Linked DNA regions of Homo sapiens: region 2 is linked to region 1. Evidence: fine-mapped expression QTL. A gene starts in region 1. The other region holds a variant in brackets. All regions are shown on one strand. Distances are between the middles of the regions. Region 1 holds the start of TVP23A (trans-golgi network vesicle protein 23 homolog A). Region 2 has its middle 47 kb from the start of ATF7IP2.

The links.
Region 2: its variant is fine-mapped to the expression of TVP23A in ovary (GTEx, PIP above 0.99).

The regions. Positions count from the first base shown.
Region 1 is chr16:10,810,923-10,827,115 of GRCh38, forward strand. TVP23A (trans-golgi network vesicle protein 23 homolog A) reads right to left here and starts at 7,872. Exons shown (of 8, transcript NM_001079512.4): 1 at 7,563-7,872; 2 at 7,181-7,260. The coding sequence starts at 7,571. RefSeq lists enhancers at 2,240-2,289, 10,410-10,619.
Region 2 is chr16:10,331,067-10,347,259 of GRCh38, forward strand. No RefSeq gene overlaps it. Among named protein-coding and RNA genes, the nearest start is that of ATF7IP2, 47 kb to the right of the region's middle. RefSeq lists a silencer at 493-693. The variant A/G (reference allele first, on the strand shown) is at 8,148.

The DNA.
Region 1 (16,193 bases):
TGCATGAATGAATTCCTCATAATAAATCTCTTTCTCCATACTTACAGATATCCTATTGGTTTTGTTTCTTTGGAGATCCATGACTAACCCAGATTTCATTTACATGAAATGTCCGGAACAGGCAAATTCATAGGAACAGAAAGTAGACTAGTGGTTCCCAGGGGCTTGGGGAAAGGGAAGATGGGTAGGGACTGTCTGATGGGTACAGGGCTCCCATTTGGCGCAGTGAAAAACTTCTGGAACTACATAGTAGTAATGGATGTACAACCTTGTGAATGTATCAAAATCAAAACTGAATCATACACTTTTAAAGAAGAAATTGGTGGAATGTGAATTATATTTCTTTTTATTTATTTTGTTTTTTGAGACAGGATCTTGCTCTGTCACCCAGGCTAGAGTGCAGTGGTGTGATAATGGCTTACTGCAGCCTTGACCTCCCAGGCTCAAGCAATCTTCCTACCTCAGCCTCCCAAGTACCTGGGACTACAGGTGTGTGCCACCACGTCTGGCTACTTTTTGTATTTTCTGTAGATAACGGGGTTTTGCCATGTTGCTCAGGCTGGTCTCAAACTCCTGGCCTCAAGCAATCCACCTGACTCAGCCTCCCAAAGTGCTGGAACTACAGGCATGAGCCACAGTGCCTGGCCATGAATTATATTATATTAAATTAAACACACACACACACACACATACACTGACACTAAAAGCAAAGGAAACAAAAGGTACAAATCGGCCACTTTAGGAGGCCGAGGCGGGCGGATCACGAGGTCAGGAGATCGAGACCATCCTGGCTAACATGGTGAAACCCCGTCTCTACTAAAAATACAAAAAGTTAGCCGGGCATGGTGGCTGGCACCTGTAGTCCCATCTACTCGGCAGGCTGAGGCAGGAGAATGGCGTGAACCCGGGAAGTGGAGCTTGCAGTGAGCCAAGATCACGCCACTGCACTCCAGCCTGGGGGACAGAGCAAGACTCCGTCTCAAAAAAAAAAAAAAAAAAAAAGTACAAAAAGGCAAACGGAATTACATTAAACCTAAAAACTTTTGTGCATCAGAAGACACAACCAACAGAATGAAAAGGCAGCCTATAGAATAAGAGAAAATATTAATATACAGAATAAAGACCTCAACAACAAAAATCCGATAACTGATTAAAAAAAACGGGCAAGAGACTTGAATAGACATTTCTCCAAAGGTGATATACAAGTGGACACATAGCACATGAAAAAATGCTCAGCAGCATCATTAACCATTAGGGATATGCCAATCTACACCACAACGAAATACCATGGTTATCACACCCATGAGGTGGTTACTATCAAAAACACAGTCAATAACAATGTTGGCAAGGATGCGGAGAAACTGGGACCCTTGTACAGTGTTGATGGGATTGTAAAATGGTGTAACTGATGTGGAAAACAGTATGGTAGTTCCTCAAAAAATTAAAAATAGAACTACCATAGGATCCAGCAATCCCACTTGTGGGTATATGGCCAAAAGAATTGAAAGCAGAATCTCAAAAAGAGATTTGCATACCCACATTCATTGCAGTACTGTTCTCAACAGCAAGAGGTACAAGTGTACCCAAGTGGATGAATGGGTCAACAAAACATAGTTTATTCATATCATGGAACTATTATCCAGCCTTAAAAAGGAAGGAAATTCTGGCACATTTTGTAACATGGATGAAACTTGAGGACGTTATGCTAAGTGAAGTAAGCCAATAAAAAAAGGACAAATACTGTATGACCCTTTTATGGGGTCCCTAGAGTAGTCAAATGCATACAGACAGAAAGGAGAATGGTATTTACCAGGGGCTGGGGGAAGGAGAGTTGTTAAACGGCACAGAGTTTCAGTTTTGCAAGATGAAAACACTCTGTTTCACAACGTGACTATACTTGAACTACTAAACTGTATAATTTAAAATGACTAAGATGGAATTTTACGCTGTGGGTTTTTTTTAATCACAGTTTTTTAAAGTTGAAAAAAAAAGTAAAAAGAAATAAAAAGTTTGCCCACCGGGGAAAAACACATACAGCATGGCTAACATTTCCTCTGTGTGCCCAGCTCTGCTGTGGAATCACACCCTCCACTGATCCTGCAAGATGTGATGTACTTCCCAGGCCCCCCACCGCAACACTGCACCTCACTGACCTGGAACCAGGGACAGAAAGAGCAGAGACCAGAGCTCCATCCCCAGGGCTTAGCCCAGCACCTGCCCCTGGCAGATGTTGAATAAATATTTAGTAAATAAACTGTATAATAACCACGTGGTGAAGTCAGGCTGATACAATTATCCCCATTTTACCGACTGGCCAATGGAGGCCCAGCAAAGTAAGGTGACCTGTCCAAAAATCACAAAGCCAGAAAGTGATAAAGGAAGAGATGAACCCAATGTCCCAGACTCCTGTGACAGGCCCCCTTCCACAGCATCACCTCCTTTCGATGTCAGCCTGGAATCCATTTCAACAAGGGATTTACAAATAACTGTTTTCACTCTATACTAGCGATTCTTAACTTTTTTGGATCATGGGCCCATTTGATAATCCAATTAATGTTTGGATCCTTTGGGAGCACTTTGGGAAGATGAGGCAGAGAGATCGCTTGAGTCCAGGAGTTTGAGATCAGCATGGACAACATAGCAAGACTCCGTCTCATAAACAAACAAATAAACAAATAAATAAATAAAGTTTGGATCCTTTTTCTAAAACAACACACATATGAAACTTAGATAATAGTTTTCAGAGGTTTCCTGAACCCCTGAAGCCCATCTGTAGACCTCAGTTAAGAATTCCCTTTCTAGGCCGGGCATGGTGGCTCACGCCTGTAATCCCAGCACTTTGGGAGGCCAAGGCACTAGGATCACTCAAGATCAGGAGTTCAAGCCTGGCCAACATGATGAAACCCTGTCTCTACTAAAAATACAAAATTAGCCAGCGTGGTGGCACGCACCTGTAATCCCAGCTACTCAGGAGGCTGAGGCAGGAGAATCACTTGAACCCGGGAGGCAGAGGTTGCAGTGAGCCGAGATCGCACCACTGCACTCCAGCCTGGGCAAAAAGAGTGAAACTCCATCTCAAAAAAAAAAAAAAAAAAAAAAAAAAAAAAATTCCCTTTCTACACTGCAATCTGGGTAAATTCATTTGTTCTCAGGATTTTAGAGCCATCTCTACATTCCTACACATCAGAATCAATGGGGTGCTATTTTAAATTCATGTTCCTAGGCCCATCCCCTGTGAATCTGGTTAAATAAGTCCAGGGCCAGACCCAGGAATCTGCATTAGGCACACCGAGGATTCTGGGATGGGTGGCTCTCAAACATACCCACCTGGATACATGAACTGCTGCCTCCCAGATCTCTGATTGCAGCCCTGGTGACTTCTCGAGCTCCTGGCCTCTCCTCCCAGCTGTCCACTGGCTACTAGAATGTTCCAACACAGACTAACAAGGACCACTCTGAGTTCAACATCTTTCCCCCAGAAGTGCTTCTTCACCTGACTCACCAGACCACCAGCCTGAGTGTCACCCTGATGATCCCTGTCCCTACCCCACATCTTGACCACCAGCAAGGCGGGCCGATTCTACCTCCCCTGTGCCTCTGGGCCCCTTTCCTCTGTCATCCCTGCCAGTGCCTTGGTCTGATCTCCTATCCTACTTCCACCCCAACAACCCAGCCTCCATCACTGCCCTGAGCAAAATCCTTCCATGGTGACCGAACTCTGGAACTGCCCTGCCCAATGCCACAGCCACATGTGGCTATTTACATTCAAATTAATTAAATAATATCAAAACATTTGTCCCTCAGGCGCCCTGGCCACATTTCAGACATTTAATCACCACAGGTGGCTGAGGCCACCGTGCTGCACAGCACAGATAAAGGCACAGCCCCATCCTCATAGAAGGTTCAGTGGACAATGCACCTCCAGAGCTTGGAGCTTGGTTGCTAAGTGCTGCAGGGTCTGGCCCCGATCTCCACGCAGGCCACTTCCCAGCACCTGGGTCTTGAGCCACATGGAACCACCCTAAATTCATGACCTTACCTCCAAGCCTCCCCATGGTATATCTACCCTTCCCAGCCTAACCAACTCCTACCCTACCTGTGGGTCCCAGCTTAGCTGGTACCTCCTTCTCTGGCCAGGATAGGAGCCCCAGCTTCTGCCTATCCCAGCGTTTAAAATACTGAGTTCTGGCCAGGCACAGTGGCTCACACCTATAATCTCAGCACTGTGGGAGGCTGAAGTAGGTAGGTAGGGAGGCTGAGATCAGGAGTTTGAGACCAGCCTGGCCAACATGGCGAAACTCCATCTCTACTAAAACAAAACAAAACAAAAAACATAAAAATCAGCCAAGCGTGGTGGCGTGCACCTGCAGTCCCAGCTACTTGGGAGACTGAGGCGGGAGAACTGCTTGAACCCAAGAGGCAGAGGTTGTAGTGAGCCGAGATTGCACCACTGTGCTCCAGCGTGGGTGACAGTGAGACTCCATCTCAAAAACAAAAACAAAAACAAAACAAAACAAAAATACTGAGTTGTAATAGCCACTGGTATGCCTACTCCCACCCTGCAAACCAGTGGTTTTCAACCGGGGGCAAGTTTGCCCCACAGAGGATATTTGGCAATGCCTGAGACTTTATGGATGGGCTGCTACTGGCATCTGGTGAATAGAGGCCAGGAATGCTGCTAAACATCCCACGGTGCACAGGACACTCCTTACAGCAAAGAAGTATCTGGCCTAAAATGTCTGGAGTGCTAACATTAAGCAAACCTGCCCTAGATTGGGCAATCTGTAAAGGCAGGAGTGGGGTCCTGAACACTGCATTTCCCCAGCCACTAGCCCAGAGTTGAGCATACAGTAGATACTCAATAGAAATTGAACACATATGAGTTCAGATGTTCTAGAAGATTCTTTACCCAGGATTCCAGTTCTTTTGGAATCTTCATTTGCAGTGTCTTCCCTTAAAGATAATCATTGGCCATTATGGTGGGATGAATAATAGCCTCCGAAAATATCCAGGTCCTGGATGGGTGCAGTGGCTCATGCCTGTAATCCCAAGGCTTTAAGAGGCTGACACGGGAAGAGTACTTGAGGCCGGAAGTTCCAGATCAGCCTGGACAACATACCAAGACCCCATCTCTACAAAATTAAATTTTTAAAAAATTAGCCTGGCATGGTGGCAACACCTATAGTCCTAGCTACTAGGGAGGCTGAGGCAGGAGGAACTCTTGAACCCAAAAGTTTGAGGTTCCAGTGAGCCATAATTGTACTACTGCACTATATAGCCTTGGCAACAGAGCAAAACCCTATCTCAAAAAAAAAAAAAAAAAAAAGAAATCCAGGTTCTAATCCCCAGAAATTGTGACAGCCACCATATATGATGAAAGGGACTTTGCAGATGTAATTTAATTATTTAATTAAGAATTTTTTTTTTTTGAGACAGGGTCTCACTCTGTCGCCCAGACTGGAGTGTAGTGGTGTGATCTCAGCCCACTGCAGCCTCTACCTCCCGGGTTCAAGTGATTCTCCTTCCCCAGCCTCCTGAGTGGCTGAGATTACAGGTGCATGCCACTACACCCAGCTAATTTTTGTATTTTTTGTAGAAACAGGGTTTCACCATGTTGGCCAGGCTGGTCACAAACTTCTGACCTCAAGTGATCTGCCCGCCTTGGCCTCCCAAAGTGCTGAGATTACTTACAGGTGTGAGCCATGCACTCAGCCTATAATTAAGGATCTTGAGATGCAAAGGTTATCCTAGATTATCTGGGTGGACGCTAAATGCCAACACAATAGTCCTTATAAGAAAGAGGCACGGGGGAAGTGGGGAGGGATAGCATTAGGTGATATACCTAATGCTAAATGACGAGTTAATGGGTGCAGCACACCAACATGGCACATGTATACATATGTAACGAACCTTCACGTTGTGCACATGTACCCTAAAACTTAAAGTACAATAATAATAAAAAATAAATAAAATAAAAAAAAAGAAAGAGGCACAGGGAAACTTCACACACACACACACACACACACACACACACACACACGTCACCTGACCATGGAACAGAGAGAGATGTGAACATGCTATAACACTGGCCTTGAAGACGGAGGAACAGGCCACAAGCCACAGAATGCCAGCAGTCACCAAAAGCTGGAAAAGGCAAAGAATGGATTTTCCCCTAATTCTTCCGAAGGGAGTGTGGCACTGCTGCCACCTTGGTTTCAGCCCAGGAACACTGACTGTGGACTTCTGGCCTCCAGAACTGCAGGAGAATAAACTTCTTTTGTCTTAAGCCAAGATGATAATGGTAATTTGTTCTAGCGGCCATAGGAAACTAATACAGTCTATTACTTTCTGGGGTTTATTAGGTTTGAATCAGAGAGTTTGATTTTAAAAACAGAGACTTTACAAGGAATGGCATTTGGGTGCCAGGGCTCGTCCCATGCCTACTGGCTCTGATAGCTGGAAGCAGAACTGGGTGGGTGAGTGAGGCTGAGCTGTGGGTGTTTCTAGAAGTGGCTGCCGCCTGGGCCATCGGCAACCACGTTCACAGGTCATCCCTCATGCCTTGGTCATGCCACCTTCTGGGATGCTAGAGGTCTCAGGCAGTTAAGTGACTTGACCCAGGACAAGTCTGTCTAGCTAGACTCAGCAGGGATTAGAATAAAACTCCAAGCTCTCTTCCACTTGTCCAGCCCACTGCCAAGCTTGCTCCCCTCTGGCCTCAGTGGCTTTCTCTGATCTTACAACATAGCCCCAGGGCCTTTGCGCTTGCTGTTCCTTCAGCTTGGAACACTCTCCCTCTGGAGTCTCCCATGGCTGGCTGCTTCTCATCATTCTGGTCTCAGCTCAAATGCCACCTCCTCAGAGAGGCCCTCCATGGCTGCACTAAGGCAAGTGGCCTTCTCTAGTTACCTTCTCTTTCATCACAGGGCTGATTTTCTTCTCACATTCAATTATCTCATTAATCTCCTTGCCTGTTCAACATCAACTCCACCCCTTCTTCCTCCCTCTCCCAATGCAGGCTCCAGGAGGGCAGGGACTTTGTCTGATGTGTCCACAGATATGTCCCCAGCCCCAGACCTGGCACACAGTAGGTGCTCAATATATTTTGAATGAATGAGTGAGTAAATGAATGAATTTGCAGCTTTGGGGAACGCCTGACCCAAGCTCCATCCCAACACACCTGATCTTGGCTTTCCTAAAGGCCAGCTCCTCCTCGTTTCCAAAGTCCAGGGACACATCCTCGGTATCGTCCACCAGGGCCTGGGAGGAGAGCAAGGGCAGGTGGCAGGCCCAAGCACGGCGCACACCCCAACCCCACCCGCCCTGTCCTCCTGGGCTTGGACTCCACTTGCACCCCACCGGGTTCCCAAGTGGACCCTCCGAGCTGGCGGGGCCCCTCCGCTGCGGCTGCAGTGCAAAGCCCTCTCCACCCTCCCGACCACCGGGTGCAGCCCAGCCCCAGGCCCCGGCGCATCCCTCCTCCTCCTCCCGGCTTCTCCAGCGCTCCCGCAGGCTCCCCTCGTCCCGCCCCGCCTCCAGCCCCAGCATCCCCGAGGCCCTACCTGCTTCATCACCCTCCCAGGAGCCCACCTGGCGCCCAGGCCCGGGGCTCCAGCTCCGCCCGTCGCCGCTGAAGGGGTCGGACGCCGGGCGGGCGGATGTAGGCAGCAGACGGTGGACGCTGAGGGTCGGGGCCTGCGCCCTGTGGGGCAGCCTCAGCGCAGCTTCTCGGGTGGGGCGGGGCGCTCGGGGCCTAAGGCGCAGTCGCAGGCTGGGGAGGGGGCTCGGCTCGCCGGGGACGCGCCCAGGAGAGAAAGCGGCGGCAGGGAGGCAACGGCCTGGGGAACTGCGGACAGAGATAGTGGGAGGAATGGGAGTCGGGGGCGGGGGGCGGCTGCGTCAGCGAATGGTGTGGACGGCGCATAAACGTGGATGTAGCGAATGATAAGGCAGTGAATGAATGTCAGTGGTGGGCAGCCGCATTCAGGGTTGGGAGAAGGTCAGTGTTTCCCAACAGTCTCTGCGCGCAAGAAATTCCCAGGAACCTTGTGAAAAGCAGATTCTCAGGCCCGGCCCGGGGGATGTGGAAGGCCTGGAGTGGGGCCCTAGAATCTGCCTTCCCCGCGCCCCCACCCCCCACGACAAAATGCAGTTAGGATGGGCCCTGCTGTGTTCTTTTTTGGGGGGTGGGGTGGGGAAGGCAGATTCTAGGGCCCCACTCCAGGCCTTCCACATCCCCCGGGCCGGGCCTGAGAATCTGCTTTTCACAAGGTTCCTGGGAATTTCTTGCGTGCAGAGATTGTTGGGAACATTCTCTGCACCTAGGCTGGAGAGCACTGGTGCCATCGTAGCTCACTGTGGCCTCAAACTCCAGGGCTCAAGCAGTCCTCCCGCCTCAGCCTCCCGAAAAGCTGGGACCACAGGCTGCACCACCACACCTAGCTAAATTTTTATTTTTGTAGAGAGGAGGGTCTCACTATGTCGCCCCGGCTAGTCTTGAACACCGAGGTTCAAGCCATCCTCCTGCCTCAGCCTCCCAAAGTGTTGGGATTACAGGAGTGAGCCACCACACCCGGCCTCACCTGCCTTTTAAGGGGTGGCGCTGCTATAGCCACAGCTTCAGAACCACAGTGAGATCTGCGTGCATCGCCGTGCCAGGCACTTATTAAGCGCAAAGTTATTAGTAGTATTAATACTATTATTGACAGTAATAGTAGTGTTTCTTGAAGTGAAAGTCTTCCTGGGTACCTCCCAGGAAAGAAAACTTGTCACCTGAGGGTCTTTCCTGGCCCAGGACACAGTGACTCTCCTCTCCTGCGTGCCCTCTCCCTGTCCTGATCCCCCACCCACGGACAGAGGGCTGAGCATCGAGATGCCAAAGCCAGTGACCCTGCCCTTTGCCCTCCCACCATGGACAATAGGTACGTGTCCCCTGCCCCTGGTGACCCCAAAGAGGGCTCCTGGGCCACAAGCCCCTGACACATTTTCCCCACTGCTGGTCTCCATGGGCGGAGGTGGAGGCAGGAGCTGTCTCATCTCTGATCCTGGGCCTGGGTTCCAGGCTTTCTGTCCTCCGCCCCCACCCCAATTCCCTAAGCTGACCCCACAAGGGCCTGCCAGGTGTGTGTGGAGGGAAAGTGCTTTCTCCTATGCCATTTCTCTTTTTTTTTTTTTTTGAGATGGAGTTTCCCTCTTGTCACCCAGGCTGGAGTGCAATGGTGCGATCTCGGCTCACTGCAACCCCTGCCTCCCGGGTTCCTGCAATTCTCCTGCCTCAGCCTCCCAGGTAGCTGGTATTACAGGCGCCTGACATCAACCCGGGTAATTTTTGTATTTTGTATTTTTAGTAGAGAGGGGGTTTCACCATGTTGGCCAGGCTGGTCTCCAACTCCTGACCGCAGGTGATCCACCCACCTTGGCCTCCCAAAGAGCTGGGATTACAGGCATGAACCACTGCACCCAGCCTCTACTATGCGATCTTCAGGAACCAAGATTTATATATATACAATGTGTATATATGTGTGTGTGTATGTATATATATATATATATATATATATATATATATATATATATATATATGTATATGTATATATATTTGCCAAACTCTGCTGCGATTTGGATAGCTTCTAAAAGACACACTGCCCAGATTGTGTTATGGACCAATTAAATCAGGCTCTCTGGGGATGGGACCCTATACCAGTGCTTTTAAAGCTCCCAGGTGTTGGGCTGCAAGGTAAAGAACCAGTGATTTAAATGAGTGCTTCTGACCCCTCAATCTGCAAATGAATCTCCTGGGGTTGGCTTAGAAGCTGGATGCTGACTCAGCGTTCTGGGGGTCTGGGGGTCTGGGCAGGGGCTGAGATTCTTTCTTCCTTTCTTTCCTTCCTTTCTTTTCTTTTCTCCTTCCTTCCTTCCTTTCTTTCTTTCTTGAGATGGAGTCAGTGGCTAGATCTCAGCTCACTGCAACCTCCACCTCCTGGGTTCAAGTGATTCTTGTGCCTCAGCCCCTTAAGTAGCTGGGACTACAGGAACATACCACCACGCCTGGCTAATTTTTGTGTTTTTAGTAGAGACAGGGTTTCACCATGTTGGCCAGGCTGGTCTCGAACTCCTGACCTCAAGTGATCTGCCTGCTTCAGCCTCCCAAAAGGCTGGAATTACAGCCGTGAGCCACCACATCCGGCTGAGATCCTGCATTTCTGAGAGCCCGTGGGAGAAGCTGATGCTGCTGCTCCCTGGACCACCCTTTGAATTGTAAAGATCTAAACCACCAAGGCCTGGTTTTCTAGAAAGGCCTGTGAGCTCTTCCTGCCCAGAAGGGTGAACGGAGAGGCCCACTCCCAGCGGGGCCCCAGCAGCCTGGGAAGGGGATATTGGGAGGAAGGAGGCAGGAGGGCAGCTGGAGGGAAGAAGCCGTTGCAGAACATTTAGGGGCTTTTTCTCTGACCCTAAGAATCACCAGCTGTTGGTGTCTGTTGAGTTGGGGTTCCTGGAGTCATGGGAAAACCCCCGTGGAATCCCCAGTCAGGACCAACTGTCATTCTCAGCCACTGGGTTGGAGGTTCCTCCAGAAATATCCTCAGCTCCTGCCATCTGGAGGTGGCTCTATAAATACAGGGTCACTTCCATCCCTCCTGACCTGTCCACATGGGGCAGAGGGCTGAGGATACAGATGCTGGGGCCACATATGAAGCCCTATTATTCCCTCCTTGGAAGAAAGCACCCTCCCTCTACACGTGGCCCAGACGGCCCTCTGTGGGGTCAGCTTCCTGAATCTGAGGGGTGGGCAGAGGGCCTGAGGGTTGCACAGAGAACTCATCTTGGTTTTAAAACTGGCTGCGGCAGAGACACCTGGTTGAAAGGTAGATTTTAGGCCGGGCACAGTGGCTCACACCTGTAATCCCAGCACTTTGGGAGGCCGAGGTGGGTAGATCACTTGAAGTCAGGAGTTTGAGATCAGCCTGGCCAATATGGCGAAACCCCATCTCTACTAAAAATACAAAAAATGAGCCGGGCATGGTGGCGCAAGCCTGTAATCTCAGCTACTCAGGAGGCTGAGGCAGGAGAATCGCTTGAACCCGGGAAGTGGAGGTTGTGGTGAGCTGTGATTGCGCCACTGCACTCCAGCCTGGGCCACACAGTGAGATTCAGTCTCGGAAAAAAAACAACAAACAAACAAACAAAAGGGTAGATTTTAGGATCTCACTCTAGGTTTTCTGAACCTCCAGGGTTGCGGCTTGGAGATCTGCCTTAATAAGAGCCGCAGAGAGGGCTTGGAAGCCCGACCTTTGGGAAACACTGGCCCTCTCCCCTCCCCCTACCCACACTGGTCTTGGCCCCTGAAGGATTTGGGGAGTAGACCTGTGAGAAGCAACCCCATCTCCGATCCCTGCAGCTGGGCTTGGGACCTTGAAGCCAGAACAACCCCAGGGAAGGAGGTCCAGGCTCAGGTAGCCACTGGCCTCTGGCTGACCTTGGAGGTCAACATCTGGAGTCTGCAGGCTTTGTTGGGGAGGGGACAGGTCACCTTAGGCAGGGGACTTCACCTCTCTGGCCTCAGTCTCCACATCTGTAAAGTGGCGCCATACTTTCCCCCTACCTGGCAAGGATGATGAAGGACCAGAGAAAACATGTCAGATTCCTTTCTCTGAATAGGGGCTCAGGAAACAGCGGCCTTGTTGACAGTGACTTAAGGTCATCAGCAGAGGGGTCTCGGGTCAGGAGCCCCCATGGGCCAGCAGCACACAGGACAGGAGCCTCGTGTCAGGGGCCTCTGCTGGGGATATCTGTCTTCCCAGCAGAACAGGGCTGGCCTTTCCTGAGTGGCTCCTGTTGGCCTCACACTGCGTGCCCCCGGGACATAGGGCACCTGGACAGAGGTACACACACAGTCTTTCTCTCCAGTGACCCCAGGAGTCCTGGACCAGGAGGCAGAGGCTTGGGTGTGAATTCTGGCAAACACAGGTCAGGGTGCTGGAACCCAGAGGCTGGAGGAGAACATTCGGCCAGGGGAGGAAGGAGACGTCAGTCTGGCAGGACCATGGCAGGCTGTAAGACACGCAGAGTGTTTGACTCTTTAGCTGCGAGCAAAGGGCAGTTGGCATAGAGGGTCAGTGGGGAGTGGAAAGAGTTTGACTACATCTGGGGCCTGAAAAGGCCCAAGATGCACTCCGTGTCCCCACCAGGCAGGATGGAAGTGGCAGCCCCCAAACCTGTCACACCAAAGCCAGCAGCTGCTCATCACCCTCAGCCCAGCATTCCTATGAGTGGCACTCCCTACGATCCCACTGGCCCCTAAGATCTGCACCCCACTCCCTGGCATCTGACGACGATCCTGTCATTTCTCCCCAGGTAGGGTTGCCAGATCTAGCAAATAAAAATAAGGGAACTCAGGCAGGGCATGGTGGCTCACGCCTGTAATTCCAACACTTTGGGGGAGGCCAAGGCAGGCTGTTCATTTGAGGTCAGGAGTTTAAGACCAGCCTGGCCAACATGGTGAAACCCCATCCTGATTAAAAATACAAAAATTAGCTGTACGTGGTGGTGTGCACCTGTAATCCCAGCTACAAGGAAGGCTTAGGCAGGAGAATTGCTTGAACCTGGGGGACAGAGGTTGCAGTGAGCCAAGATTGCCCCACTGCACTCCAGCCTGAGCGACAGAGTGAGACCCTGTCTCAAAAAAAAAAAAAAAAGAAAAAAATACAGAAACTGAGCTAAATTAGAATTTGAAATAAATGACAATTTTTTTAGTGCAAGTATGTTCCATGCAATATTTGGGACATAATTATACTTAAAAATGATCACTTGTGGCCGGGCATGGTGGCTCATGCCTGTAATCCCAGTACTTTGGGAGGCTGAGGCGGGCAAATCACGAGGTCAGGAGATTGAGACTATCCTGGCTAACAAGGTGAAACCCCATCTCTACTAAAAATACAAAAAATTAGCCAAGCTTGGTGGCACGCGCCTGTAGTCCTAGCTATTCAGGATGCTGAGGCAGGAGAATCACTTGAACCAGGGAGGCGGGGGTTGCAGTAAGCCAAGATTGTGCCACTGCACTCCAGCCTGGGTGACAGAGCAAGACTCCGTCTCAAAAAAAAAAAAAAAAAAAAAGATCACTTGTGTTATTTCCAGTTCAAATGTATCTGGGTGGCCCCTATTTTCTGGCAGTCCTATTGTAACCATACACAGGCTCGGCTGCTGATCACTTACAAAGCCAATAACAAGGACGAGATGCAGTGAAAGGAAAGTGACTTTATTCCAGGGCTAGTGGTGGGGAAATGGCCCAGGCTTGTGTTTACAGGAACCATTTCTAACTTTAGCCTGGGGAGAGGGACTTAAAAAAAGGGCACTTGGAAGGTTGGGCATAGCGGTGGCTCACACATGTCATTCCAGCACTTTGGGCGGCCAAGGCGGGAGGATCATTTGAGCCCAGGACTTCGAGTCTAGCCTAGGCAACATGGCGAGGTCCTGTCTCTACAAAAATAAAAAAATTAGCCAGCCACAGTGGCACACACCTGTACTCCCAACTACTCTGGAGGCTGAGGCAGGAGGATCACTTGAGCCCAGGAGGTTAAGGCTGCAGTAAGGTGTATTTGTGCTACTACACTCCAGCCTGGGCGACAGAGCTAGACCCTGTCTCAAAAAATAAAATATTTTAAAAAGGGAACCTAGAACGGGAGTGGTGCCGGGTACAAAGCCAGTTTGTCTTGTTCCAGCGGCTATCTCGAGCCTTGCTCCACCTGAAGCATAGCCTGGCATCATCCCAACCATGGCCGGGTTGTTGACAAACCACCTAGAGATAATCTCTGGAATTTTGCAGCTGGGTCTCCAAGACTGATATGTTTCAAGGTTAGCTCCTGGAACTTCTAAGTGAACACATAATTAATACAAGCATACAGCCAGATAAATGTGCATGGGATAAGGGAGAGAGACAGAGTTTGAAAATACAGTTCAAGGCTATATTTTAAGACTAAGGAGGGAGGCCGAAGGGGAGGATCACAAGGTCAGGAGTTCGAGACCAGCCTGGCCAGTATGATGAAACCCCGTCTCTACTAAAAATACAAAAAATTAGCTGGGCATGGTGGTGCACACCTGTAATCCCAGCTATTTGGGAGGCTGAGTCAGGAGAATCACTTGAACCCAGGAGGTGGAGGTTGCAGTGAGCCGAGATCATGCCACTGCACTCCAGGCTGGGCAATAGAGCGAGACTCTGTCTCAAAAAAAAAAAGACTAAGGAGGGAAAAAAAGGTTTCTGCAGTTTGTTTTGACGTTACATCTTGAGACTAAGGAGAAAAGAGAAAAAGGGAAAAAAGTATAAAATGCGTTTTGAGGCCTGGCACAGTGGCTCATGCCTGTAATCCCAGCACTTTGGGAGGCCCAGGCCAGGTGGATTACTTGAGGTCAGGAGTTTGAGACCAGCATGGCCAACATGATGAAACCCCATCTCTGCTAAAAATACAAAAATTAGCTGGGCGTGGTGGTGGGTGCCTGTAATTCCGGTTACTTGGGAGGCTGAGGTAGGAGAATCACTTGAACCCGGGAGGCGGAGGTTGCAGTGAGCCGAGATTGTGCCACTGCACTCCAGCCTGGGGAACAGAGCAAAAAAAAAAAGCATTTTGAAGCCAAGCTACTCAGTTACGGTATGACTCCAGGCCAGGGGACATCCAGGCCCACGAGGTTGGGGGGCTCCCACCCTCCTGTTTGTATGGCTGCCCCTGTGACTGTCACACTGCTGCCTGTTTCACAGAGGCTCCTTTCAGGTGACCTAGTCCAGTCCTTCTTCAGGCTGGCAGCCAGTGCAGGTTACCCAGGAGGGCGGAGCAGAGGGCCAAGGGAAGAAGGAGGGTCCCCTCCCGTGGGCTGCCTTCAGGGCCCCATCCACCTTGTCAGGCGCAGGGAGTGGTACATGGAAATAGCCCTGGATTTCTACCCAGACAGACCTGGGTGCAAATCCTGACACCAGCTGTGCCCAGCACGCTGGTGTGGACATGGACGCAGCTCTTAGCAAGAGATATAAGCTGCTGATTGCTGACCCTCTTTAGGCCAACTTTCTAGTTACAGACAAATAAATACAGCCAAGTGAAAAAACAACAAACTAGAGCTTGTCAAAAGTGCACTAAATGCCCCCATGCAAAGCTGTGCTGTCTAATCCAGGAACCACAAGTCATTACTGAGCCCTTGAAATGGGGTAAGGCTGGATGGAGATGGGCTATCAGGGCAAAGTACACAGCAGAGATTGAAGACTTGTTAGGAATAAAAGGCCGGGCGTGGTGGCTCACGCCTGTAATCCCAGCACTTTAGGAGGCCGAGGCAGGTGGATCACCTGAGGTCAGGAGTTCGATACCAGCCTGACCAATATGATGAAACCCCATCTCTACTAAAAATACAAAAATTAGCCAGGTGTGGTGGCGGGCACGTGTAGTTCCACCTACTTGGGAAGCTGAGACAGGAGAATTGCTTGAACCCAGGAGGCAGAGGTTCCAGTGAGCCGAGATCGTGCCATTGTACTCCAGCATGGGCAACAGAGTGAGACTCTGTCTCAAAAAAAAAAAAAAGAAAAGAAAAAAGACTTGGTAGGAATAAAAGAATGTAAAATAATAATATTGAAATCATGTTTTAATTGTTTACATGCTGTAATGATAATCTTTTAGACATAGTGGATTAAAGAGAATGTATTATTATAATTAACAGCCTGGGCAACATAATGAGACTCTGTCTCTACACAAAAATAATAATTAAAAAAAAAAATTAGCCTGGCGTGGTGGTGCATGCCTGTAGTCCCAGCTATTCACGAGGCTGAGGTGGGAGGATCACTTGAGCTGGGGAGTTAGAGACAAGCCTGGACAACATAGCAAAACCCTGTTTCTATAAGAAATACAAAAATTAGCCCGGCATGGTGGTGTGCGCCTGTAGTCTCAGCTACTGAAGAGCTGAGGAGGGAGGATTATTTGAGCCCAGGAGGTCAAGGCTACAATGAGCCGTGATTGCACCACTGCACTTCAGTCTGGATGATAGCGAAAGCCTGTCAAAATTAAAATAAACGTCCAGGCACTGTGGCTCATGCCTGTAATCCCAGCACTTTGGGAGGCCGAGGTGGGCAGATCACTTGAGATCAGGAGTTCGAGACCAGCCTAGCCAACATGGTGAAACCCCGTCTCTACTAAAAAATACAAAAATTAGCCAGGTGTGGTGGT
Region 2 (16,193 bases), 480 kb before region 1:
CTGAAAAATTTCCTATAAGCCTTTCTTGTCCCTCTTGGGTGGTGGTCTCTGGGGCCTGGTTGCAACCCCCATTCCTGAATAAATGCTTATTTGCCTCTGACCTGTTGATTCCTTTTTTTTTCTTTCTTTCTTTTCTTTCTTTCTTTCTTTTTTTTCTGATAGTCTGGACAAAATCTGAACAGAATTTACAGAAAAGTAGAAGAGAGAATAATTGAAGCATCTCTTATTGGGTCAGGTGCAGTGGCTCACTCCTGTACTCCCAGAACTTTAGGAGACTGAGGCGAGAGTATCACTTGAACCCAGGAGTTCAAGACCAGCCTGGACAACAGAGCAACACCCCGTCTCTACAAAAAGTAAACAATAAATTAGCTAGGCTTGTTGTGCGCGTCTATAACCCAGCTACTCAGGAAGCTGAGGCAGAAGGAGCACTTGAGCCCAGGAGCCTGAGGCTGCAGTAAGCTATGATGGAATGACTGCACTACAGCCTGGGCAACAGAGTGAGACTTGTCTCCAAAAAAATAAAAATTTAAAAGAAAATCTTATCTCTGGATTGCCTCCTGTACTCCTCCTTCTATGTCAGCCTTGGAGGTGCGTGTTTACAGTTCCAAGGATCAGAAAGCCCATAATTTTTTTTTTTTTTTTTGAGACGGAGTCTCGCTCTGTGTCGCCCAGGCTGGAGGGCAGTGGTGTGATCTCGGCTCACTGCAACCTCCACCTCCCGGGTTCAAGCGATTCTCCTGCCTCAGCCTCCTGAGTAGCTGAGATTACAGGTGCGTGCCACCATGCCCAGCTAATTTTTGTATTTTTAATAGAGACAGGGTTTCACCATGTTGGTCAGGCTGGTCTCAAACTCCTGACCTTATGATCACCGGTCTCCTCAGCCTCCCAAAGTGCTGGGATTACAGGCATGAGCCACTGTGCCTGGCCTCAGAAAGCCCATGATTTTGTGCTATGAAATCAAAAGGCTGGACCTTGTAAAGGAGCCAGTGGTCACCTCCAGCTCCCCTTTAGCTCCTATGTGGGCTCTTTGGCTGGATCTAGACACCAAATTGACACCATGCAGATTAACAAAAGTATATACATTTTATTAGTTTTACCTGTACATGGGGGTCTTCATAATAGCGTGAAGTTCAAACAAGTGGCTAAAGATAGATGCTTGTATACTATTTGTACACTATTTAGATTACATTTGAGAAGAAATGACAGGAAAACCTGGCTAGGGCAATAAATTTTCTAGGGGAGTTGCTAGGAGATATATGGGGGTGTCAAACAGTGGAAGATAAAGATTGTTTCATTAAGTATGTTTATTCAGGTCCATCACAGTCCCCAATTCCCAGTCTCTGGTGATAAGGGCTATTTTCTCACCCTGGTATGTGACAGCCCTCCTCCCAGAGGAATTTTTATGGCCTGCTGCATGCACAAAGAGAGAGGTCAGTTAGCCCTTTTTAATTTTTTTTTTTAGAGCAAGGTCTTGCTCTTGCTCTGTCACCAGGCTGGAGTGCAGTGGCATGATCATAGCTCACTACAGCCTCAAACTCCTGGGCTCAAACCATCCTCTTGCCTCAGCCACTCAAGTAGCTGTGATTACAGGCATGCTCCACCAAGCCCAGATAATTATTTCACTTTTCTTTTTATAGAGATAGGGTCTTGCTATGTTGCCTAGCTGGTCTCAAACTCTTGGGCCCAACCAATCTTCCTGCTCGTGAAGAATCACATTCTTGGGCCCGAGCACGGTGACTGACACCTGTAATCCCAGCACTATGGGAGGCCAAGGCAGGCACATCACTTGGGCTCAGGACTTCAAGACCAGCCTGGCCAACATGATGAAACCCCTTCTGTACTAAAAACACAAAAATTAGCTGGACGTAGTGGTGTGTGCCTGTAATCCCAGCTACTCAGGAGGCTCAGACAGGAGAACTGCTTGAATCTAGGAGGCGGAAGTTGCAGTGAGCTGAGATCACGCCACTACGCTCCAGCCTGGGCAATAGAGCAAGATTCCATCTAAAAAAAAGAATCATTTTTTTGTTTCTTGTGAAGATCCCCATGTACATGTAAAACTAATAAAATGTGGGCCGGATGGGGTGGCTCATGCCTGTAATTCCAGCACTTTGGGAGGCTGAGGTGGGCAGATCACAAGGTCAAGAGATCGAGATCATCCTGGCCAACATGGTGAAACCCCGTCTCTACTAAAAATACAAAAATTAGCTGGGCGTGATGGCGCATACCTGTAGTCCCAGCTGCTTGGGAGGCTAAGGTAGGAGAATCGCTTGAACCCGGGAGGCGGAGGTTGCAGTGAGCCGAGATCGCACCACTGCCCTCCAGCCTGGGTGACACAGAGAGAGACTCCGTCTCAAAAAAAAAAAAAAGTGTATATTTCCTCTTGAGTGGGTGTGGTGATGCACACCTACAGACCCAGCTACTCAGGAAGCTGAAGTAGGACAAATGCTTGGGCCCAGGAGGTGAAGGCTGCAGTGAGCTGTGATTGCGCCATTGCACTCCAGCCTGGGCAACAAAATGAGACTCTATCTCAAAATAAATAAAACAAGCAAACATACCAACCACAATTTCATCAATGTTTTCAACTCGAAATAATCAATATGCCAATCTAGCATATTTTGGGTTGGCACGTTCTTCACTCCTTCAACTTTTTGTGGGGCCTGTTATGTTTTTAAGGAGACACCCTGGGAGGAAGGAGGAGAAGGCCATCGCCTCCCCCCTCATTATTAAACAAAAAAAAGGTTGCTCCCCTTGTCCCTCCTCTGTCCCACTGGTGCCTCTTCTGTCAATTCTGCCAAGATTCCACCCTCAACTCCAAATCAAGAAATGCATCTGAGGCCACTATATGTGTAAAAAACCTTCCTGAAGGGCAGGAGAACTCAGGAGGCATTATACATTTCATCCATGCACTATCAACCAACACTGGGGAGCCACAAACAAAGGGAGGGACTTTTATTTTATTTTATTTTTATTTTTTTGACACAGAGTCTCGCTTTGTCATCCAGGGTAGAGTCCAGTGGCACGATCTCAGCTTACTGAAAGCTCTGCCTCCAGGGGTTCAAGTGATTCTCCTGCCTCAGCCTCCCGAGTAGCTTGGATTACAGACATGCGCCACCACACCCGGCTCATTTTGTATTTTTAGTGGAGACGGGGCTTCACCATGTTGGCCAGGCTGGTCTCGAACTCCTGACCCTGTGATCTGCCCATGTCGGCTTCCCAAAGTGCTGGGATGACAAGCGTGAGCCACCGTGCCCCGCCCATTTTATTTTTGAGACAGAGTCTCGATCTGTCACCCAGGCTGGAGTGCAGTGGAGTGATCTCAGCTCCATGCAATCTCCACCTCCCAGATTCAAATGATTCTCCCACCTCAGCCTCCTGAGTAGCTGGGACTACAGGCATCCGCCATCATGCCCGGCTAATTTTTGTATTTTTGTAGAGATGGGGTTTCCCCATGTTGGCCAGGCTGGTCTGGCATTCCTGACCTCAGGTGATCCACCATCCTTGGCCTCCCAAAGTGCTGGAATTACAGGCGTGAGTCACTGCACCTGGCCCAGGAAGGCATTTTAATCAGGGTTTTTATGCATTGCAATTTGGGAGAAACAAATCTAGCAAGTAGCTAAAACGTGTTTCAGCCAGGCAAGACTCTAGGCAGGGGTTTCTAAAGGTTTACTGCAAGTTTACCTAAGCGGAAGACAGTAGCACAGTCTGTGATTGACACATGACCTGTCAACCTCAAAGGGAGAAGCTGAGACAATATTAATATAAAGTTTATTTGGGTCAAGGTTGAGGGCAGCAGTCCAGGACACACTTCCAACTTGCTGTGGGGCGTGCTCCAGAGGACATTAGAGAGGCTGAAGTTTTTAAAGAAAAAATAACCAATGAGGAGAGAGGGTGATTACAAACATTGTTAGGAATTCTCATGGGTTTACAGAAATAACATTGGCTAGTGATTGGCTATATATTGGTGAACTGTAGGGCATTTGGTATTTTAGGGGTACGTGGCCTTAGTTAAGTGTAGAAGCCACACAGCAAGTGGCTTCAAGAGGTGATTATTATTTGGCTGGGTGCAGTGACTCAAGCCTGTAATCCCAGCACTTTGGGAGGTTGAAGTGGGAGGATGACTTGAGCCCAGGAGTGTGAGACCAGCCTGGGCAACATAGGGCGACTATATCTCTGCTGAAAACTTTTTAAAAATTTAGCCGGACATGGTGGTGCACACCTGTAGCCCCAGCTACTCAGGGGTGAAAGCCAGAGGATTGCTTGGGCCTAAGAGTTTGAGACCAGCCTAGACAACACAGTGAGACCCTGTCTCTACAAAAAATTTAAAAATTAGCCATGCATGCTGGTGTGTGCTTGCAGTCCCAGCTACTCAGGAGGCTGAGATGGGAGGATCACTTGAGCCCAGGAGGGGGAGGCTGCAGTGAGCTGTGACGGTGCCACTGCAGTCCAGCCTGGGCCACAGAGGCGGACCCTGTCTCTGAAAAAAAAAAATAAAAAATAAGGTGATTATTAATTCAAAGGGAAGTAACCTAACTGCTGTTTCATTTCAATGCCTCTTTGGCCTGATGGCTTAAAGGGGCCTGTATTCCTTGAATAAAACATTTCTTCTTGTTTTTTTCATTTGTTTGTTTTTTCCTCCCCCTATAGGCCAGCTGACAGCTTAGAAAGACTCTAGGCCATGATCAGCTTAAAATTCAGCACAGCTGTGTCTTCAGGAGGTTCGTGATCTGCCCCAGTGTGAGCAGTTCAAACCCAATGAAGCTGCTTCTCCAGAACGTTTGCGATCTGGCCCAGTTCAAACAGGTCAGATCCCTCTGGATCCATATATGACTGAGGGCCAACTTTTGCCCTCCTGGCTCCTTGACAGAGACCTCCGACAAATCATCTCCACGTTGGCTTTCTTTCTTTTTTTTTTTTTTTGAGACGGAGTTTTGCTCGTTTCCCAGACTGGAGTGCAATGGCGCAATCTCGGCTCACCGCAACCTCCGCCTCCTAGGTTCAAGCGATTCTCCTGCCTCAGCCTCCTTAGTAGCTGGGATTACAGGCATGTGCCACAATGCCCAGCTAATTTTGTATTTTTAATAGAGACAGGGTTTCTCCATGTTGGCCAGGCTGGTCTCGAGCTCCCGACCTCAGGTGATCCGCCCACCTCGGCCTCCCAAAGTGCTGGGATTGCAGGCGTGAGCCACCACGCCTGGCCTCCATGTTGGATTTCTTTTCACAGCACTGTGTCAAAATATAGCAGGAATTATTGCAACAGCAACTGTTATTAATCACACCGTAGAGCAAATCATAAGAAAACTGCAAGAACATCTTTTTTTTTTTTTTTTTTTTTTTGAGACAGGGTCTCACTTTGTCTCCCAGGCTGCAGTGCAGTGGCATGATCAGGGTTCCCTGCAGCCTTGACCTCCCAGGCTCAAGTGATTCTTCCACCTTAGCCTCCTGAGTAGCCGGGACTACAGGTGAGCGCCACCAGGTCCTGCGAATTTTTGTAGTTTTCATAGACACAAGATTTTGCCATGTTGTTCAGGCTGGTCTCAAACTCCTGGGCTCAAGCTAACCTCACAAAGTGCTGAGATTAGAAGTGTGAGCCACCATGCCTGGCACCAGAAGATCTTATATGCCATACGTCTTTATATATTCACAGTAGCAATGGGTAAGTATATTCCGGTAACATTTTTCAAAACTTCCCCACCCACAGCCAACCCTCCACCCTTGCTATTCTTTTTTTTTTTTTTTTTTTTTTTTTGAGATGGCATCTCTCTCTGTCACCCAGGGTGGAGTGCAGTGGCGCGATCTTGGCTCGCTGCAACCTCCGCCTCCTGGGTTCACGCCATCCTCCTGCCTCAGCCTCTCCAAGTAGCTGGGACTACAGGCGCCCTCCACCACGCCTGGCTAATCTTATTTTTTTGTGTGTATTTTTAGTAGAGACAGGGTTTCACCGTGGTCTCGATCTCCTGACCTCGTGATCCGCCCGCCTCAGCCTCACAAAGTGCTGGGATTACAAGCATGAGCCACTGCGCCCAGCACTTTTTTTTTTTTTTTTTGAGGCAGAGTCTTGTTCTGTCATCTGGGCCAGAGTGCAGTGGCATGATCTAGGCTCACTGCAACCTCTGCCTCCTGGGTCCCAGTGATTCTCCTGCCTCGGCCTCCCCAGTAGCTGGGATTACAGGCATGCACCACCACACCCAGCTAACTTTTTATATTTTTGGTAGAGATGGGGTTTCACCGCATTGGCCACGCTGGTCTCAAACTCCTGACCTCAAGTGATCCGCCCACCTCAGCCTCCCAAAGGGCTGGGATTACAGGTGTGAGCCACTGCACCTGACCCAAGTTCTTTAAGTGCACTTCCTCTTAAGTGCACTTCCAAAATTCACATCCAAAATAGTTTTAAAACTAAATTGATTTTTTTCCCCAGTGAACTCATTTGGTAGCAAAGCCTGACTTGTGACTATTTATGGTGTGGAGGAGGAAAAACTTTTCCTCTACCCTTTTAGGTTCTTTTGGGTGGTGGGGGGTGTGGCGGACTGCGAATTAAGGTGAAGAAAGCTAGATTAACACGAGAAAAACGGCTTATATGTATGCAATACAGGAGCCAACAAAAGAAGTAGCTTGCAGGCCGGGCGCGGTGGCTCACGCCTGTAATCCCAGCAATTTGGGAGGCTGAGGTGGGTGAATCACCTGAGGTCAGGAGTTCAAGGCCAGCCTGGCCAACATGGCGAAACCCCATCTCCACTAAAAATACAAAAATTAGCTGGGTGTAGTGGCACACACCTGTAATCCCAGCTACTTGGGAGGCCGTGGCAGGAAGACTGCTGCAACCCAGGAGGCAGAGGTTGCAGTGAGCCAGGATCACGCCACTGCACTCCAGCCTAGGCAACAGAGTGAGATTCCGTCAAAAAAAAAAAAAAAAGAAGTAGCTTGCTGACCAGGTGCAGTGGCTCAAGCCTACAATCTAGAAATTTGGGAGGCTGAAGCGGGGAATTGCTTGAGCTCAGAAGTTTGAGACCAGCCCAGGCAATATGGTGAGACCCCATCTTTACAAAAAAAAAAAAAATTAGCTGGCTGTGGTGGCATACACCTGCATCAACTACTGGGGAGGCTGAGGGGTGAAAGGATTGCTTGAGCCTGGGAGGTCGAGGCTGCAGTGAGCCATGATCATGCCACTGCACTCCAGTCTGGATGACAGAGTGAGAATGTCTCAAAAAAAAAAAAGTGGCTTGTACATTAAATGATTAGAGTTAAAGGCTTATACACCTAAGGGAAAAGGGAGGGGAGAGAAAAGGCTCTTATGAGAAGAACAAATAGGTTTCTTTAGGAAAGATAAATAGGATTTTAGGAGAAAAAATGAGAAGTAAAGTCTGCGGTAATGTTTGTTTATGCAGGTGCAAGTGTCTTTCTTGTTCTTGGCTATGATGCTCTCAAAGAGAGAGGGTTTATGGTAGCCTTATTTCCCAGAAGATGCTGCTTTTAGTCAAATGAAGGCAGCTCCCAGAAGGCTTCTTTCCACATCTGTTGAATCTCAAATGTCTTCAGCTTAAAATAATAAGCAAGCTAGGGCTGGCTGTCAGCTGGGAACCCAGCCAGGTCTGGGAGGGAGGGGTTCAGTTCCTTTCCACACCAGCTCTCTGCAGGCTATACGGGCTTCCTCACAGCATGGTGGCTGGGTTCCTAGACCAAGGGACAAGAAGCAAAAGCTGCCCCTGTCTAAAGGTGGGCCCAGAAGCTAGCACAGCATCAATTCTACTTCATTCTAGTGGTTGAGTCATTAAATATGAGTATCCACAGGCCTGGCGGGGTGGCTCACGCCTATAATCCCAACACTTTGGGAGGCCGAGGTGGGCAGATCACGAGGTCAAGAAATCGAGACCATCTGGCCAACATGGTGAAACCCCATCTCTACCAAAAATACAAAAATTAGCTGGGCATGGTGGCATGCACCTGTAGTCCCAGATACTCGGGAGGCTGAGGCAGGAGAATTGCTTGAACCTGGGAGGCGGAGGTTGCGATGAGCTGAGATTGTACCACTGTACTCCAGCCTGGGTGACAGACCGAGAGTCCGTCTCAAAAAAAAAAAAAAAAAAAAAAAAGATCACCAGTCACAGATCTTGATGGGGGCAGGGCCATGGAATTTCAGGATCTGGTTTTAA[A/G]TTGCCATACGGCCCTATTCATTCTTCAAGTAGAAGTTCCAATACCATCCCTTCCAAGAAGTTTCCTACACTCTTGAAAGAGTGCATGGGACTGGGCACAGTGGCTCATAACTGTAATTGCAGCACTTAGGGAGGCTGAGGTAGGAGGATTGCTTGAGGCTGGCAGTTTGACACCAGCCTAGGGAACATGGCGAGAGCCTGTCTCTACAAAAAATGAAAAGTGAAAATTAGGCTAATTTTGTACACCTGTAGTCCTAGCTACTCAGGAGGCTGAAGTGAGAGGATTGCTTGAGCCCAGGAGTTTGAGGCTGCAGTGTGGTATGATCATACTCCAGCCTGGGTGGTAGAGTGAGACCTTGTCTCTTAAAAAAAAAAAAATCTTCTAAAAAAGTGCAAAGTGCTCCTCCTTTGTGTTTACCTGCAGTGCATAGTGTTACACACATCTTTATAAGGGAACACCTGAGTAGGATTAGTGTGAGCAACAAGGCTGTTTACTTGGGTGCAAGTCGGCTGAGTCTGAGAAAGGAGTCAATGAAGGGTGGTGGGAGTGGAACTGGTTTTATAGGTTTGGGGTAGGAAGAGGAAAGTTACATTTAGGGGCAGTTTTTTTGGGCAGGGGAAGAATGTCATAAGATGCATAGTCATGAGGTAGGGGGAGGTCACAAGGCACCGTATCACAAGGTCGATTGATTAGTTAGGGTAGGGCAGGAACATATGACAATGGTGGAATGTTGCAAATTTGGTTAATCAGTTAAGGCAGGAACTAGCTGTTTCTTCTTCTTTAGTGGTTCTCTTGTTGCTCCAGGCTTTGTGACTCCAGGAGGCCTGTATGTGTGGGTCACAGGGGTCACAATGGCTTGACCATGGTGTAGCCCATTCAGAGGACCTTACATGTAGAGAACCTTACTTTTTTAAGAATTAACTTTAAGGTGGTATTGAAGCAGAAGACATAAAAAGAAAAACAAGTTTTCCTGTACTAGGCTGACTCACTCAAAGGCCCAGCAATGGGCAGGGCTCTGTTGGGACTTTGATAGCACTATCTACAGAGGCAGGGCCCAGAAGGGATGGGATCCAGAGCCTCTCCCTCCCATCCCAGAGCAGGGATGAAGAAAACAAGTTTTTCTTTCAGCTTCCCCCTTCAGATTCTTCCCCCTTACCGTTGTTCCTTGTTCTGTTCTCATAATTATTTTTGCAAGTTTTGTAAGTTCCTGTTTTTCCCTTCTGTGCAGCACGGCAAGGTCACAAGATAAGTTTGAGTTCTAAAACCTATCACTGTTTGACAAACTGCCTTTGTTCTGCTTCTGTAAGCTCGCTTGCCTGCTCTACAGGTTTCGCGCCATCAAACCGGCCAACCCCATTTCAGATGCATGTATAAAAGTCAAGCCCTGTCTTTGCTCAGGGCTCAGCCTTTGGATGTTAATCCACTGGGCTGGTGCTCACCTAATAAAATCCTCATGTCCCACCCATTGGTCTCTCCTGTCCCTTGATTCCTGCAACAGTGTAACTTATAATAAAATTCCCCTATTTTGGCTGGGCACAGTGGCTCATGCCTGTAATCCCAGCACTTTGGGAGGCTGAGGTGAGTAGGTCACCTGGGGTCAGGAGTTTGAAACCAGCCTGGCCAACATGGTGAAACCCCATCTCTGCTAACATACAAAAATTAGCCAAGTGTGGTGGCAGGCACCTGTAATCCCAGCTACTTGGGAGGCTGAGGCACAAGAATGGTTTGAACCTGGGAGGCGGAGGTTACAGTGAGCCAAGATAATGCCACTACACTCCAGACTGGGCAACCGAGCAACACTCTGTCACAAAAAAAAAAAAAAAAAAAAAAAAAAACCTATTTTAAAAAGTATACAGGTCAGGTGTGGTGGCTTACACCTGGAATCCCAGCACTTTGGGATGCCAAGGCAGGTGGATCACTTGAGGTCAGGAGTTCAAGACCAGACTGGCCCACATGGTAAAACCCCATCTCTACTAAAAATTACCAAAAAAATATTAGCCAGGCATGGTGGTGCATGCTTGTAGTCCCAGCTACTTGGGAGGCTGAGACAGGAGAATTGCTTGAACCTGGGAGGTAGAGGTTTCAGTGAGCTGAGATCACACCACTGCACTCCAGCCTGAGCAACAGAATGACACTCTGTCTCAAAAAAAACAAAAGTGTACCATTTCGTGGGTTTGACAAATGTGTACACCTGTGTAATAGCCACCACAATCAAGATACAGACTATTTCTATTACCCCAGAAAGTTATCTCAGGCCCTATAGGAAATGTCTTATGTCTTTTTTTAAAAATTCTTTTTTTTTCTATTCTTTTTTTCACTCTTGTTGCACTGGCTGGAGTACAATGGCTCAAAGTTGACTCACCGAAACCTCCGCCTCCCGGGTTCAAGTGATCTCCTGCCTCAGCCTCCCAAGTAGCTGGGATTACAGACATGTTCCACCACACCCAGCTAATTATTTTTAGCTCTGTTGCCCAGGCTGGAGTGCAGTGAAGCAATCTCGGCTCACTGCAACCTCTGCCTCCTGGGTTCAAGCGATTCTCCTGTCTCAGCCTCCTGAGTAGCTGGGATTCCAGTCACCCACCACCACACCCAGCTAATATTTGTATTTTTAGTAGCCATGGGGTTTCTCCATGTTGGCCAGGCTGGTCTCAAACTCCTGACCTCAGGTGATCCGCCTAACTTGGCCTCCCAAAGTGCTGGGATTATAGGCATGAGCCACCACACCCAGAGATAACATCACTATTATAGTGCCTAAGATTGTAAATGTTTTTCATACTTTTGCATTCTGACAATCAATTGACCCTACCTGGACCTGTGACTCATGACTCAACCAGTCCTGTGGCCCTCAGCCAGAGGCAGACTGAGTGCAAGAGGACCGTTTTTCATACCGCTATGATTTCATCGCCCACCAATCAACAACACCCATTCCCTAGCCCCGCTGCCCACCAAATTATCCATTAAAACACAACCTCTGAGTTCTCAGGAAGGCTGATTTGACTCATAATCTCTGGGCTGCATTCCCAGATGGTTAAGGCATTCTAAGTCACAGGATGAGACAGGAGCTCAACACAAAATACAGGTCATAAAAACTTTGCTGATAAAACAGTTTGCAGTAAAGGAGCTGGCCAAAACCCAGCAAAACCAAAATGGTGATGAGAGTGACCTCTGGTCATCCTCACTGCTACACTCCCACTAGCGCCATGACAGTTTACAAATGTCATGGTAATGTCAGGAAGTTGCCCTATATGGTCTAAAAAGGGGAGGCATGAATAATCCACCCCTTGTGTAGCATATTATCAAGCAATAACCATAAAAATGGACAACCAGCAGCTTTCACAGCTGGTCTGTCTACAGAGTAGCCATTCTTTTATTCCTTTACTTTCTTAATAAATTTGCTTTTACTTTGCTGTGCGGACTCTCCCTGAATTCCTTCTTGCGTGAGATCCAAGAACCCTCTCTTGGGGTCTGAATCGGGACCCCTGTGCTGTAATGCCCCACTGCCACACAGCCTCTTCCATAGAAACTGAAGTTCCTCCATCTGCCTAAGATCTAGACCCCCCACAGAGAACAATTGGTTTTTCTTTCTCTCCCTTTAAGGCTAATAATTTAACCACACCTGAACAGTATAATGACTGTCTGCAAGGATCATTTAAATCATAAAGAGAATTGTTTAGAAGTTAATCTATGCTCCACTCATTCTTCCTAGTAACCACTCCACCAAATTCCTCCTATCCTCCCTCCCATCACCTGTTTTACCAGGATCCAAGCTCATATTCTCTCTGTAACCTCAAGATGAAATAGAAGCCTTTTTACTTCACTGGGATGTCAGATCTTCATTTTGAAAGCTCTCATGTAAGGCTGAAGCAGGAGATATAAAAAGAAAACATGAATTTTTGCTTTAGGCAGCTCCCCACCCACTCCCTGCTATTGCACCCTGTTCTGTAAGTTCTGTAGGCTTGTAAATTCCTGTGTTCCGCAGCTGGTTTCTGTAAGTACCTGGTCTCCATCAAGGCAGCACAGCGAAGGTCACAAGATAAGCTTGAGCAAGCCTAGATTGCAGCCATCTGGGCACCACAGTGAAGGTCCCAAGATAAGCCTGAGCAAACCTAAATTACAGCCATATGGGCCATACAGCAAGGGTCAGATGACATGCCTAAGTGAGCCTGACTTGCAAGCCTGTTACTGTTGATAAACGGTCCCTGTTCTGTTTCTGTAAACTTGCTTTCACACCACTGCATTTTGCGCCACTGTAAGCTTGTTTCAAACTAGCCAACCACCCTTCAGATGCATGTACAAAAGTCAAGCCGTCTTTGTTCGCAGCTCAGTCTTTTGGATGCAAATCCACTGAGCTGGTGCGCACCTTAATAAAATCCTTCCGTCCCACCCATTGGTCTCTCTGGTCTCCTGATTCCTGCAACAAGGCTAGGCAAGGTGGCTCTTGCCTGTAATCCCAGCACTTTGGGAGGCCAAGGCAGGTGGATCAGCTGAGGCCAGGAGTTCGAGACCAGCCTGGACAACATGGTGAAACCCTGTCTCTACTAAAAATACAAAACTTAGACCAGTATGGTGGTGCGCACCTGTAATTCCAACTACTCAGGAGGCTGAGGCAGGACAATCACTTGAACCCAGGAGATGCAGGTTGCAGTGTGCTGAGATTGTACCATTGCACTCCAACCTGAGTAACAAGAGTGAAACTTCATAAAAAAAAAACAAGAAGGCTCCTTGGTATATGTGTTAAATAAATGTGTATGCCTTTTCTCCCACTTCTCAAACTACCTCATGTCAGAGATTTTTCAGCAAGCCTTTAAGGGACAAAGTGCCTTGGCCTTGGAGTGATACAGCTGCAGATCAAGGAATGCCAAGGAACACCTGGAGCCACCTTTCTAGAAGAGGTGAGGAAGGATCCTCCCCTGAGGCCTTCAGAGCAAGCATGGCCCGACCAACACCTTGAATGCAGACTCCAAGCCTTCTAAACTGTAAGAGAATACATTTTTGTTTTTTCAGGTCACCCCATTTGTAGTAATTTGTTATGGTTGCCCTAGGAAATGAATATGTTACCAGAAAGAGGTCCCAATCCAGACCCCAAGAGAGGCTTCATGGAATTTAAGCAAGAAAGAATTTGGGGTGAGTCCACAGAGTAAAGTGAAAGTAAGGGAATAGGCCCAGCACGGTGGTTCATGCTGTAATCCCAGCATTTTGGGAGGCCGAGGCAGGTGGATTGCTTGAGCTCAGGAGTTTGAGACCAGCCTGGCCAACATGGTGAAACCCTATCTCTACTAAAACACAAAAATTAGCCAGGCATGGTAGCAGGAGCCTGTAATCCCAGCCACTCTGGTGGCTGAGGCAGGAGAATCACTTGAACTCGGGTGGCAGAGGTCGCAGTGAACTAAAATTGTGCCACTGCACTCCAGCGTGGGTGATCGAGTGAGACCTTGTCTCAAAAAAAAAAAAAAAAAAAAAAAGTAAAGGAATATAAGGATAACTACTGCCTAGACAGAACAGGGTGTTCCCAAAAGCAAGAGAAGGAAGGTGCCCACCTTAGGTACAATGCCTGTTTATATATAAGACAAGCCAAAAAATCAAGGGGGAGATTTTCTCTAATGCAAGCTCTTGTGACAAAGAATTGTTAACCTTTGTGTAACTACAGACTTTTGCAATAATCTATTTATTTATTTATTTATTTATTTATTTATTTATTTATTTAAGACACATTCTTGCTTTGTCACCCAGGCTGGAGTGCAGTGGTGCAATCTTAGTTCACTGCAACTTTCACCTCCCAAGTTCAAGTGATTCTCATGTCTCAGCCTCCCCAGTAGCTGGGACTACAGGCGAGCACCACCACACCTGGCTAATTTTTGTGTTTTTAGTAGAGTCAGGGTTTCACTGTGTTGGCCAGGCTGGTCTCGAATTCCCGAGCTCAAGTGATCTGCCTGCCGTGGCTTCCCGAAGTGCTGGGATAACAGGCATGAGCCACTGTGCCCAGACTGAAATCTTATCTTTAAAATGAAACTTATTCTCGAAAAGAATGCTTTTGTCTTTAAGATATCAGGGCATTGGGACATTTCTTGGGTTTGTTAAGTCCTGGATATGTTTAGTAAACTTTTTTTTTTTTTTTTTTTTTTGAGATGGAGTCTCGCTCTGTCACCCAGGCTGGAGTGCAGTGGCGCAATCTCGGCTTACTGCAACCTCCGCCTCCCAGGTTCAAAGGATTCAACTGCTTCAGCCTCTCGTGTAGCTGGGACTACAGGCATGTGCCACCACACCCGGCTAATTTTTTATATTTTTAGTAGAGACAGGGTTTCATCATGTTAGCCAGGATGGTCTCAATCTCGTGACCTGGTGATCTGCTGGCCTCAGCCTCCGAAAGTGCTGGGGTTACAGGTGCAAACCACCACACCTGGCCTATGTAATGTCTTTGAGATTCATCTGTGTTTTTGTATTGCTCCTTTTCATTGCTCAGTAGGATTCCATTCAAGAATGTGCGTAAATTTGTCCAATTTTGTGTTGTGGATATTAAAATTGTTTCCAGAATAAATCTGCTAATGATATTCATCTCAAACATTTTTTGTGACTGTAGCTCTCTGGGATAGATACCTAGATATGAAAATGCTGAGTATGCAGCCATAAAGAAGAACAAAATCATGTTCTTTGCAGCAACATGGATGCAGTTGGAGGCAATTATCCCAAGGGAATTAATGCAGGAACAGAAAACCAAATACCGCGTGTTCTGACTTTTGAGTGGGAGCTGAACACTGGTTACTCATGGACATAAAGGTGCCAACAGTAGACACTGGAGACTCCTAGAAAGGGGAGGCAGGAGAGGAGGCAAGGGCTGAAAAACTCTCTATTGTGTATTATGCTCAGTACCTGGGTGATGGAATCAATTGGACCCCAAATCTCAACATCACACAATATGCCCAGGTAACAAACTTGGTCGTGTACCCCTGAATCTAAAACAAAAGTTGAAAGTATTTTAAAAAGAAAGAAAAAAAGAAATGGCTGAGTGGTATGGTAAATTTATGTTTAATTTTATTTAAAAACAAAACAGAAAAGCTGCCAAACTGTTTTCCAAAGTGGTTGCACCATTTTATGTTTCCACCAGCAGTGCGTGAGAATCCGGCTGCTGTACATCTTCCCCAACACTTGGTACTGCCAGTCGTTTTAATTGTTGCCTTTCTAGAGGATGTATAATGTCATCATATCATGGTTTTATATGGGATTTCTCTGATGACTGTGAGGACTGTGTTGAGCACCTTTTCATGTCATTATAAGTCATTCCTAGGTAAAGTGGAATAAGTTAACTTAAATACAAAGGCAAAAAACAACTTTATTAGTCTGTTCTTGCATTGCTATAAAGCACTACCTGAGACTGGATAACTCATAAAGAAAAGAGATTTAATTGGCTCATGGTTCTGCAGGCTGTACAAGAAACACGGCTGGGGAGGCCTCAGGAAACTTACAGTCACGGCAGAAGGCAAAGGGGAAGCAGGTACATCTTACATGGCTGGAGAATGAGGAAGAGAGAGAAGGAAGAGGTGCCACCCACTTTTAAACAACCGGATCTTGTGAGAACTCACTCACTATCATGAGAACACCAAAGGGGGAGTTTGCCCCCATGATCCAATCACCTCCCACCATACCCCTCCTCCAACATTGGGAATTACAATTTGACATGATATTTGGGCAGGGACACAAATCCAAACCATGTCAGTAACCAAATTTTGAAAAGCTCACAAGCTTCCAACTTGTGCCCCAGAATCTCTAGGCAATGGATTAAAGGATGCATGCCTCTACTGGATAGTGTTGTCTACTTCCTGATGTCCAGAGGTGTGGTGAAGCCTCTCCTAGCATCCTCAGTTTGTAGAAAAGACTATGCAGGCTGGGCACGGTGGCTCATGCCTGTAATCCCAGCACTTTGGGAGGCCAAGGCAGGTGGATCAAAAGGTCAGGAGTTCGAGACCAGCCTGGCCAACATAGTGAAACCCCGTCTCTACTGAAAATACAAAAATTAGCTGGGCGTGGTGGTAGGCCCCTGTTGTCCCAGC